Regions from separate parts of the Homo sapiens genome. Here region 2 is linked to region 1. The links come from fine-mapping of genetic effects on gene expression. A gene starts in region 1. The other region holds a variant in brackets. All regions are shown on one strand. Distances are between the middles of the regions.

Region 1 (5,372 bases):
TGGGCCCAAACTGAGTTGATACCAGAGGTTCACAGGGACTCAGGAGGGGGCTAGATTAGGCAAGAAAGGAAAAACAGCACTCCTTTAAAAAAAAGATGGAGTTTCACTCTTGGCCCCCAGGCTGGAGTGCAATGGCATGATCTCGGCTTACTGCAACCTCTGCCTCCCGGGTTCAAGCAATTCTCCTGTCTCAGCCTCACGAGTAGCTGGGATTACAGGCACCTGCCACCACACCCGGCTAATTTTCATATTTCTAGTTGAGACAGGGTTTCACCACGTTGTCCAGGCTGGTCTCGAACTCCTGACCTCAGGTGATCCGCCCCTCTTACGGGCATGAGCCACCGCACCTGGCCAAAACAGCATTCTTGTTTTCAGTTTCCCCAGGCCAAGGTTTATCAAAGAAGCCAGATCCCAGAAAAAGCCCAAATATTCAAAGCTTGCCTACTTACCCATGGGCAAATCAACATTTTTATGAACTGCTTTTGAGGGAAAAAGAAGTAGAGGGGGTCTGGGGGAGCAAATTAACTCCCAAAGAATGAATAAATGGCACTTAAATGAGATAGGAGGCCTTTGAATGCTACTTAGTTTTTCTCCCCAATTCTATTAGTTTGGCAAGCATCTATAAAGTGCCTACTGTGTGCTGAGTGTTGTGGGTGGTCAGATAGGGTGTTTGGCTGGAAGGTACTCACAGGAAGATAGGCATGTGCACAAACACCCAAATATCTAAAATACAAAGCATGGCACACTGACAATCAACAAAAACAAAAAATGCAAAGCAGAATGTGAGACCTGCCCCAAGGGAAATCAGATAAACTGCTGAAGAAGTTCAGATCAGGGGCTGTTCTCTTTCACCCGGAAATGGTGTTCTCTTTCACCTGGTGTTCTCTTTCACCTGGAAAGTTCAGGAAATAGACCCTAGGGGCTGGAGCCCAAATCTGAAAAACCTTCTTTATTCTTCCAACCGTAGCGATTTTTTCCTGGCTCCACTTTACAGAAGTGAAAACCAGGACAGAGACATGAGGAATTATTTGCTCTCTGATCATCCAGGTGGTTAGCAACACAGCCAGATAGAGAACTACAAACTGATGATTGAAAACTTCCCCTAAAAACTGATGGTGAAAGCACATACTACTAGGAAGCTCATCTTAGAAGACAAAATCCATAGAGCTGTTCCCTCTGTCTCCCTTCTTAGGTCAATCCCAAAGACACACCAACAAAAAGTCAAAGCAGGATTTAAAAAAATGTCATAAGCAAGCTGGAATCATATATATCTCTGGCCTAAAGGAAGCCAAGGTCTCTGCAGTGTCAGATCGTCAGATCCTCCTCCTGGGGAGGCCATTCTTTTTGCGAAGTCTCCAGTCCCATTACAAGTGAGTTGCCGGGGACTTCATGTAGGGGGAACAAGAGCTAGCCCACAGATGAAAACCCAGGCAAGCCCTCTGCTTTTGCACAGTGAACGAACGTGCCCACAGGCTTCTCAGCATTGAATTTGAACGAGCCAATGGTATCCCAATCATTGAAACAGGAAGCCAGATAAACAGCATGTTATCAAGGGGGGATCCAGCTCTTCCCTTAAGCCGGCGCCAGCTGCGCCCTGTGACTATCCTAACAAAGTCCCATTGACTCACCAGCTGATTTTCCTGTGTTCGGCTCCAGGGGACAAGGAACCCTCTCTGCCGGGTGGACGTCACCCCTACACACCGCCCCCGCCACCCGCCACTCGCGTCCTCTCCAGTTCCTGCCTCCCCTCTGCCCGCTGCAAACTTAGCTGCTTCTTTATCCTATGACCAGTTTTTATCGGCTCTGGGGATTAGCAGGGACCAGAGCCCAAGCCTCGGGAGCGCTCAGGTGAGCTCCCCGTGATCACCCAATTTCTGCGTTCTCCTCTCTCCCCTCTCCTCCGGGACCACTTTCTCCGCTCCCAGACGCACTGGGCGGGCGCCAGAGAGGACGGCCTCCGGGAGATTGGCGGGAGGGCGCTTCCCGGCGCATCCCGGGGGTGCGGGGAACGTTTTCTGGAACGGCCCGCGAGGTCACCTGCCCCAGCTGTTCCTCTGGCTCCTGCTGGGATGGGAGGAGTTAACTCTTGCTTCAACGAAAGGCAGAGGTGCGGGTAGGGTGTGTGCTTGCCGTGTGGGTGCGAGTATAAGAACGCAGCACCTGGTGTCTCATGATAAGATCTCAACGCACTTTAAATTGTGGGTATTTCACAACAAGGAAACTGAGGCTCAGAGGGACTGAAGTTAGGCAGCCCCCCCGGAGAGTCAACTCTAGAATCAAACGCGCAGTCAGTCCCATAGGGGTCGAAAGGGCACACACCTTCCCGGGAAGCCGCGAGCATCTTGGTTGTTATTTATTCCAGCGCCTCTCCCGAGCCCAGCCCACAGCCTCCCTCGGGCACCAACCTCCCCTACCCCGAGACTTGGTCTCGGCCTCGCAGGACCTGCCAGCCAAGCCTCGCAAAACGGGAAGCGCCAGACCCTCAGCGCCGCGACCGCGCGACCGCCCCGCGCCGGCCACTCACCGGAGCGCCTGCCCGCCCGGGCTCCGGGTCCGCGCCGCAGCCGCGCAGAGTCGCGCATCCCCAAGGGCAGCGCGGGTGCGGGGTCCGCTTCTCGCGAGCACAAAGTTTCCCGGGGCTCCCCAGGCCGCCTCGGCCCCTCGCACCAGGCTTGGCGTCCGCCGCGCACTCCAGCCTCGGGCCCCGCACTAGGGCAGCCGCCGGCCCCGGCCCCACAATGAGGAGGGAGGCGGCATCCTGAACAAAGTGCCGTCCCCTCGGGAACGGCGGCCGGGGCGGAGCCTCGTGACCCGCTGCCCCAGGCACACGCCGGCTGCCTCCACGGCGGGCCCAGGAGGGGAGTGCCTGGCGGCCGGGGGGCGGGCAGGAGGAGAGAATCCGTCCGATCGCCCTGGCTTTCCTCCCCCTGCACTGTGCCAGTTTAACCCGCAGAGGGGCGGAGGCATGGGTCCCTTCCAGACTTTGTCATTGGAAAGCTATTCCCGTAACCCTTTGCTGCCTTCGCCTTCCCGTCCCGCCTCCCAGGCTGGCCGCAGAAAGGCGGCTGCTCGGTGGCGGACCCGCGAGCTGGCAGGGCAGGAAGCCTTTGCACAATTGAGCCTTTCCTTTGCCCGGGGACCCGCCACCGCCACTTCCAGGCCGGGTTTCCTCCCTCCCCCACATGTCGTCCGGGTACCGCTCGCTGGTTCAGCCGCAGTTCTTTAGGAGAAGGGGACAGATGGATGGGCCAGCCTCTCCACCCGACTTCTGACCCCGGGCACCCACCTCCTTTCTTTCTCCACCCCACTGAACTGTCATGCTGTCTGAGCTGTCTTAGAGGAGGGGGAGGCCCCGCAAGTGCCCCGCAAATAGTAGGTGCTCAGTAAAATAAGTGACTTCTCCCCACCTTCCAGACAGCCGATGCCCCTCCTCCTTCTTCCAGGGACTTGGGAGTGGGAGGAGGGGGAAGAAGAGGAGAGAGGAAATGACAGGACCTGAGGAGAGTGAATGGGAGGAAGGCCCTCAGCCAGAACCTACTGCAGAAGCAGTGCAAGCCCCCTGCCTCCTGGCTTGGGGACTTCCAGGGTCTGCAGGAAGAAGGCAGAAGGAAGCCAGATGACCTGAGCTTTGAAGCAGGCTTTGGAAAGGGAGTAGCTGTGGCCAAGGACCCAGCAGATTCCCCTGCTCCTGCCAACAAATAAGAGGACTGATCTATTCCCAGGGCCATGGGGTTGCAAGTTGGAGGACTGATGGATAGAAAGCAAAACTGCCTACTCCCTGGGAGGTCTCACAGCTCTTTGCCAGCAAAATCAGTGTGAGCAGAGTCAGGATGAGAGCCCTTGAGTCCTCCCTGAACGCCCCACACAGTCAGTAAGGCCACAGTGGCTTTGAATTTGGAGAGATGAGACACCAGACAATGGACAAGCAGTGACATTCAAGAAGTTCCCAACTGATCAGGGAAAAAGATTTGTTGTATGATTTTTGTCCATGAAGGGAGTGAACTGCCTTTTGGCGCGGGATAAGGGGGTGGACTGCAGAGTGACACCCTTACCCTCTGTATAAAGACTAGAAGTGTGGGCTCTTAAGGCAGACTGCATGAGTTCAAATCCTGGATCAATGATTTTTTAGCCATGGGAACTTACTGAACTCTTTAACCTCTAGCTACCTCAGTTTCTTTATCTGTAAAATGGGATAATAATGGTTCCTATCTCCTAAGAGTGTTGGGAGGATTAAATGCGATACTATAGGTGACACACTTAGAATAGTGCTTGGCACATAGTAAATGCTCAGTGAACATTAGCTGTTACTTTGATCTTGGAGTAACTAACTCTTGGAGATCTAACTCTTGGAGATCTAACTCTTGGAGATGTAACTCTGCGCCCAGTTTGGCATTCAATGATGTGCTAGCTAGAATCCTTTTGTGCTCTTCCCAGTCCTGCAAAGGGGAGCCTAGTCCTTTAAGAAGAAGCACTGTCCTTTCTTGAGAGCTCAAAAGGTGGGACCCCAGGGACCAAGGACCACACAGTAGGTATGCAAATGACTATCAGAAGGTGAAATGACTCCTTGACCCATTGTGAGGCTGGATGCATAGCCCCCATCCACATTGGTAATGCTGGGATGATGTCATTCCTTGGGTGCTACCCAGAATGGAAAAGAAAGCCAAAGCTATAATTTCGTAAGGGTTAGATCTCTTCTATCAGTACACAGGATCAATATTTCTCTCCCACTTATGAGTGGCTGCTCATACAAGTTCTCCCTCACCCTGCTCCTAATGTCCCAATCAATATGGGTGACGGGATCATTTGTACCCCAAGCCTCAGCATCACACAATATACCCAGGTAACAAGCCTGCATATGTACCCCCTGAATCTAAAATAAAAATTCAGAAAAATGTCCCACTCACAGATTTCCAACAGTGAACCTGTATGTGTAGGCAAACATAATAGCATATGGACAGGTTGAGGGAGGAAGGAGTAAAGGGGCCAGTCTGGTTGGGGTGACAGGCAGAGGATATGAAAGCTACTGAAAGAGAAAGTGGATAGGACAGAGCGGCAGGGAGGAGAAGCCAGAAGAGACTCTGGACAGAGCACTGTTTGGGTAAGAAACAGGGTCCCGCCCATCCCAGAAGTGGCCTCTGCCAAATGCCTACTTTGTGAGTAGTTTTTGTCTGAACACAGTGATGACTCAGTTGCTCTGAGTCTAGCAAATGGATTTTCCTTAAATATGAAAATCAATAAGAGGTAAAGGCAAGGACCTCGCTGTGGGGAGGGGAGGATGGAGAGAGTGGGAGAGGTGCTGGGGCGTGAAATGATTTGTGAGTGATGGAAGGAGGGAGATTCAGGTTCACTGCAGGAGACCCTTGGCATAGTCA
Region 2 (5,372 bases), 210 kb before region 1:
TGAGCACTAAAAATATGTCCTCTGTCTGACTTGGGGAGAGCTTATTTAGATCTCATATAGATTTGGAGAAAGAAAGACATGGAAAAGACCTAATCTGGTGGCTTGCAAGCCCTTTTTTAAGAAGAGCAATCGTTTTTACTAACATTTTAACCAGAAGTCCTCAATGTATGAAACAGGTAAACACAGGGCTGCTCTGTTTGAAAGGGAGGCAGAGTCACCAAGTCCACCTGCCCCTCTTCCTCCCCTCCCCACCCTGACTTGGTCAACTCTCATACCATGAACAGTTTACCTCAGTCATTTCTCCCCTATCACTGATGCACCAAGTCATCCACGCAAATGGGTGTTTTTCTGCTTTGGGAGACTTCCAGGGAAGGGTTTTTCATACCTTCCTTAGGCACTCATTACATGTAAAATCCTTGCAGCGGTAGGTCTTTGTTATAAAAAATTACACAGAAAGTTGCCAGTGAACCTCAGTGTCATTCAAAGTACTAGGACCAATAGAATTTTTCCTGATACACTTCTGCTTTTCCAACTTGAGTCTTCACACCCATACCTACAGTGCATTATCAAGTCTAATGTCAGTTTCTTTAAGGTGGAGCAAAATTTTAACAACATAAAGCAATCTGAAAGCAAAATCCTCTAGAGTTTTATAATCTCCTCTAACCTTTCAAGTCCTACATATAACTCAGCAACATGCCTTTTCTTTCTTTTCTTTTTTCTTTTCATTTTGGAGAGAGAATTGCTCTGTTGCTCAGCTGGAGTGCAGTGGCGTGAACATGGCTCAATGCAGCAGCCTCGACGTCCTAGGCTCAAGTGATCCTCCAACCTCAGCCTCCTGAGTAGCCAGGACCACAGGTATGTGTCACCATGCCTGGCTAATTTTGCTTTTTCTTTTCTGGAGAGACTGGGTCTTGCCATGTTGCCCAGGCTAGCAATTTCCCTTTTGAAACTTCCAATATAGTCTTTATGGAAACAACTTTCTTTTTATGCTCATATTTCATCAATTTATGTAATAATTATATTATCCAAGTTCAACTGGCATAAACAGGTTTGGGAGCAAATGCAATTCTAGGAAAGCATTCAACTTGATTGGTGGAGCAGAAGGATGCAGGCACATTTGAGAGCAGCCTGTTGGCAACCTGTGCTCCGTGTGCAGAAGGCACACAGTCAGAGGGAATAGTGAGCAAGTTGGTGCAAGGGTTGTGCTCTATCTGATGCCCAGAACCATTTTGGAAAGACAAAAGTGAAATTCACAAGGCTGAAGACATCATCACAGCTCCCCTTCTGACTTTTGCTGCTTTTCAGTATATTTCTCTTTGCTTCACCTCTGAATTTTTTTGCTAAGTGGGGATGAGGAAGTGAGGCTAATAATTGTTATTGCTGAATCATTGGGCTGAAATCACATGGCCAGCGTTATTTAACTTTAAGACATTATTTCGCAGGTAGAATTGTTCTCAGTTAGAGAGAGTCTTTTTCTTTTTTTGAAACGGAGTCTCACTCTGTTGCCCAGGCTGGAGTGCAGTGGCATGATTTCAGCTCACTGCAACCTCCGCCTCCCGGTTTCAAGCAATTCTCCTGCCTCAGCCTCCCGAGTAGCTGGGATTGTAGTCACCTGCCACCATGCCTGGATAATTTTTGTATTTTTAGTAGAGATTGGGTTTCGTCATGTTGGCCAGGCTGGTCTCGAACTCCTGACCTCAAGTGATCTGCCTGCCTCGGCCTCCCAAAGTGCTAGGATTACAGGTGTGAACCACCACGCTGGGCCAGAGAGAGTCTTAGTTCAACTTTATAAAAGGGACATGGGGTAGCTAAGAGCCTTACCTGAGCAGACTACTACGTCAAAACCAGACACCAAACCCAAGGGTCCCAACTTCTTTAGGGGGCTCCTATAGGCTCCACTGTCTCCCTGGCACAGTAAATTTTTTTCCAAGGTCTTGTGGACTCTCTGGGGATCAAAGCTGCTTTTACAATGAATAGCTCTGTGCAAATTCCCAGAATTAGTTTCTCAGATAGCAGGAATGCTCCTAAATCAGGTTGTGCATGAGTAAGCAATGATTTCCTCCCTCCTGCAAGAGACTCATGGCTAGTTTCTCAGACAGAGGACGTGACTGGCCACTTTTGCCCCCTGAGGTTCTGAGGCCAGGGGTAGAGCTTGGTGGAGGCTGGTAGGTTCCCTGCTGAGGTAACTGCAGTGCAGCAGCCCAGATTCCATCTCCCTTTCTAAACACTGCACACATGCTAATGCTGGAGGAGCACAGCTTTGCCAGGGATTTCCATATGAGAACCCCAGAAAAGAAACAACTTGAAATATCATGGCAAACATGAGATGCACCCATAAAAGATGAAAGCAATTGCTATAAACCACGTGAAAAAGCTGGTGTTATTACATATACCTCCTCCTTCACACTTAATTCATAAGAGTGAGAGAGGAGGACCCTTTTAATAATGGGACAAGGAAAATTAATAAATTAACATACTGCTCATATACTGCAAAGGTAATAATTCCAAAACACATTATGAGCACTGAGAAGAGTAGTCTTTATGAAGTTTTCTCACTCAGAGAGCCGCCTTTCCAGGGAAAGGCAACTACAATCTTCCCCAGGGTCAGCTCAACACTAGCCTAGAAGGTGTCTGCAAAGTTGTTCGGCATGAATCCCATATATTGGGGACCCATTCCGGTGGGGTTGACGTAAGGAGCTCTGGGTTCTGGAAGAAGGATCCCAAGATAAGCACTCAGTGACAGCAAGCATGGGAATCTGAGTTGGCAACCCAGGGCCTGGAAACTACAAGGATGTTTATCTAGAATTTAGGAAGAGAGAAGCTTAAATGGGGGAAAAACAGTACCAATTATGGGCACCAAATACATATATAATATAGGAAATGGGAAGAAGTGGCAAAAACTTCCAGAACATGAATGTGTAGCATAATGTAAACAAGAGATTTCATTAGGGAACTTTTTCCAGACAAGAGTGAGGCATCCATTTCCAGGGATCTGATTAACCACTCAAGCACTGCTTTTCAACCACGTATCAGAGGGAATAAATAGGAGCAGGGTCTAGGATGTGTACCCTGGAACACCCTCTGCTGTCTTCGCCACTGTGTCTAGG[G/A]GCAAAATTCCAGAAACCCATGGCACCCAGGAATAAATCCCAAGTATGTGTTCTCCTTCAGGGCCTTTGAGCCACAATTCCACCCGCTGGCAGAAATACTACTTCTGTTTTAAAGCTGTTAAAAACCTATTTTTAAAATCGTACAGTTGGCAGATCACCAAAATCAAAACTTGATAGTCTAGTATAGTCTTATAGAACTATTTAAAATAATCCATGGGAAAATGTTCCAAGCCGGAAAAATAACAGTTTCACACATGCACACATGCACACAGGCAGGACCGTGTGTGCATGCACTAGGGCAACTGCCCGCACAGCCACGAGAATGGGGGCCCAGGAGGACGGTGAAGATGACAGAGTGGGATGGGCCATATGTTCCGATTTCTTTATACATTACCTATTGATCCACTGCCCCATCAATTCTCTTCAAGATTTATCTCAGGCCCAGGGTTCTTCTCCTTCCTCCTTCATACCTGAAAGTCTCCCTTCTACCTGAATAGTGTCTCCAAATTTCTTCATTTTTTTTTTTTTTTGAGACAGGGTCACACAGGCTGGAGTGCATTGGCATGACTGGAGCTCACTGCAGCCTCGACCTCCTGGGCTCAAGCGACCCTCCCATCTCAGCCTCCCGAGTAGCTGGAACTACAGGCGTGTGCCACCAGGCTCGGCTAATTTTTTGTATTTTTTTGTAGAGATGGAGGTTTCCCCATGTTTCCCAGGCTGGTCTTAAACTCCTAGGCTCAAGCGATCCACCTGCCTCAGCCTCCCAAAGTGCTGGGATTACAGGCACGAGACACTGCACCTGGTCATTCTCTCCAAATTTTGATGCAGTCTACATTTGAACTTCCATGAGTTTCCCACACTCACTGCGCTCCTAACGTGCTGCTCCTTGACCTGGGCATAAATCTTCCCTTACATTTCTGACTTGCTTGCTTCCTATTTCCAGCTACTGTTATTCCCCAATAACTGTTAAATATCCAATTCTATTACAAGTTAATCATAGTGTGGAATGGGAATAGGTTGTCTTTTGTTATGTTTTTAGTGATTAACAGAATTTCTTGGCACATAGTAGGCAATGAATAAATACTTGCTGGTGGATTTGCTTCCATTTTATGTACCTGTTATGTTTCAGGTGACATGATTTAACCTAATCTGAAGGGCTCTGTGTGTGACATGACACAGCATAAATATGGTATGTCCAAAGCTGTACAGCTATATTAGCTCTTACAGTGGTATCCTATCAGCTATTTTTTGTCATCATCAAAAGATCATTACTAAGTTCCACATATGCTGCACTTGGATAAAATCCCCTGGCCCCTAGAAACTTATAATTGGACAAAACTATCACCATATGATGAGTAAATATGGGGAAAATATATATAGATATGTCTAAAAGCAAGACTAGGCATGGTGGCTCACACCCATAGTCCCAGCAGTTTGGGAGGCTGAGGTGGGTGGATTGCTTGAGCCCAGGAGTTAGAAAACAGCCTGGACAACACGGCAAAACCCGGCCTCTACAAAAAAAAAATTAGCTGAGCATGGTGGCATGCACCTGCAGTCCCAGCTGCTTGGAGGCTGAGGTGGGAGGATTGCTTGAGGCTGGGAGGCAGAGGTGGCAATGAGCGGAGATGGCGCCACTGAACTGTAACATGAGTGACAAAGCCAGACCCTCTCAAAATAAATAAATAAATAAATACAATAAAATTAACTTCCCTGGAGGCTGGGGAACCTCATTAGCAGCTCTTCTTTATAGGAAATGACCATTCCAAATGGGAACTTGATTTTCAAGCTTGTAGAAAGTACCCAGCTCTTTAGATTTACATTTAGTCTAGGGAGGAGTGGCTGTATAGCCAGCCAGAGCTGGGTTTGAATTTCTGCTCCACTACTTACTGACTGACTTAGGACAGGCACTTTCCCTCCCTGAACATATGCACACATCAGAAAAATGGTCATGTCACCATCAGTCTTTCAGGCTAACTGGCAGAGTAAATAAGATAACAAAGAAAACACCTGTAAAGCACCCAGCTCAGTACCCAGGAAATCAGAGGTGGGTACACAACTTTCCTCTTCTCCCCTCTTTTGAATAACTCATCCATTATTCGAATGGCACCTGCAACAATACACTAAGTAGGAAAACTGGTTCGTGAGGAAATTCATACTTGCTATATATCCTTTGTAAGTCCATGGGTTACATCAAGCATTCCTTGATTATGCTCAATACTTAAGGACCAGTGGCCAGACTGTTTTGTATGTGTGTACATATGCATG

Evidence for each region. PIP is the estimated chance that this variant, and not a neighbour inherited with it, causes the effect.
Region 2: its variant is the best candidate, but not a certain one, in a credible set for the expression of NAV1 in nasal epithelium (TOPMed, PIP 0.63).

Annotation. Positions count from the first base shown.
Region 1 is chr1:201,536,495-201,541,866 of GRCh38, reverse strand. NAV1 (neuron navigator 1) reads right to left here and starts at 2,740. Exons shown (of 34, transcript NM_001389617.1): 1 at 2,525-2,740. LOC124904484 (a long non-coding RNA gene) reads left to right here and starts at 1,722. Exons shown (of 2, transcript XR_007066793.1): 1 at 1,722-1,848.
Region 2 is chr1:201,745,259-201,750,630 of GRCh38, reverse strand. All of the region lies in intron 7 of NAV1 (neuron navigator 1), which reads right to left. All of the region lies in intron 2 of IPO9-AS1 (IPO9 antisense RNA 1), which reads left to right. LOC124904483 (a long non-coding RNA gene) reads left to right here. Exons shown (of 2, transcript XR_007066790.1): 1 at 1-855. Among named protein-coding and RNA genes, the nearest start is that of MIR5191, 28 kb to the right of the region's middle. The variant G/A (reference allele first, on the strand shown) is at 3,108.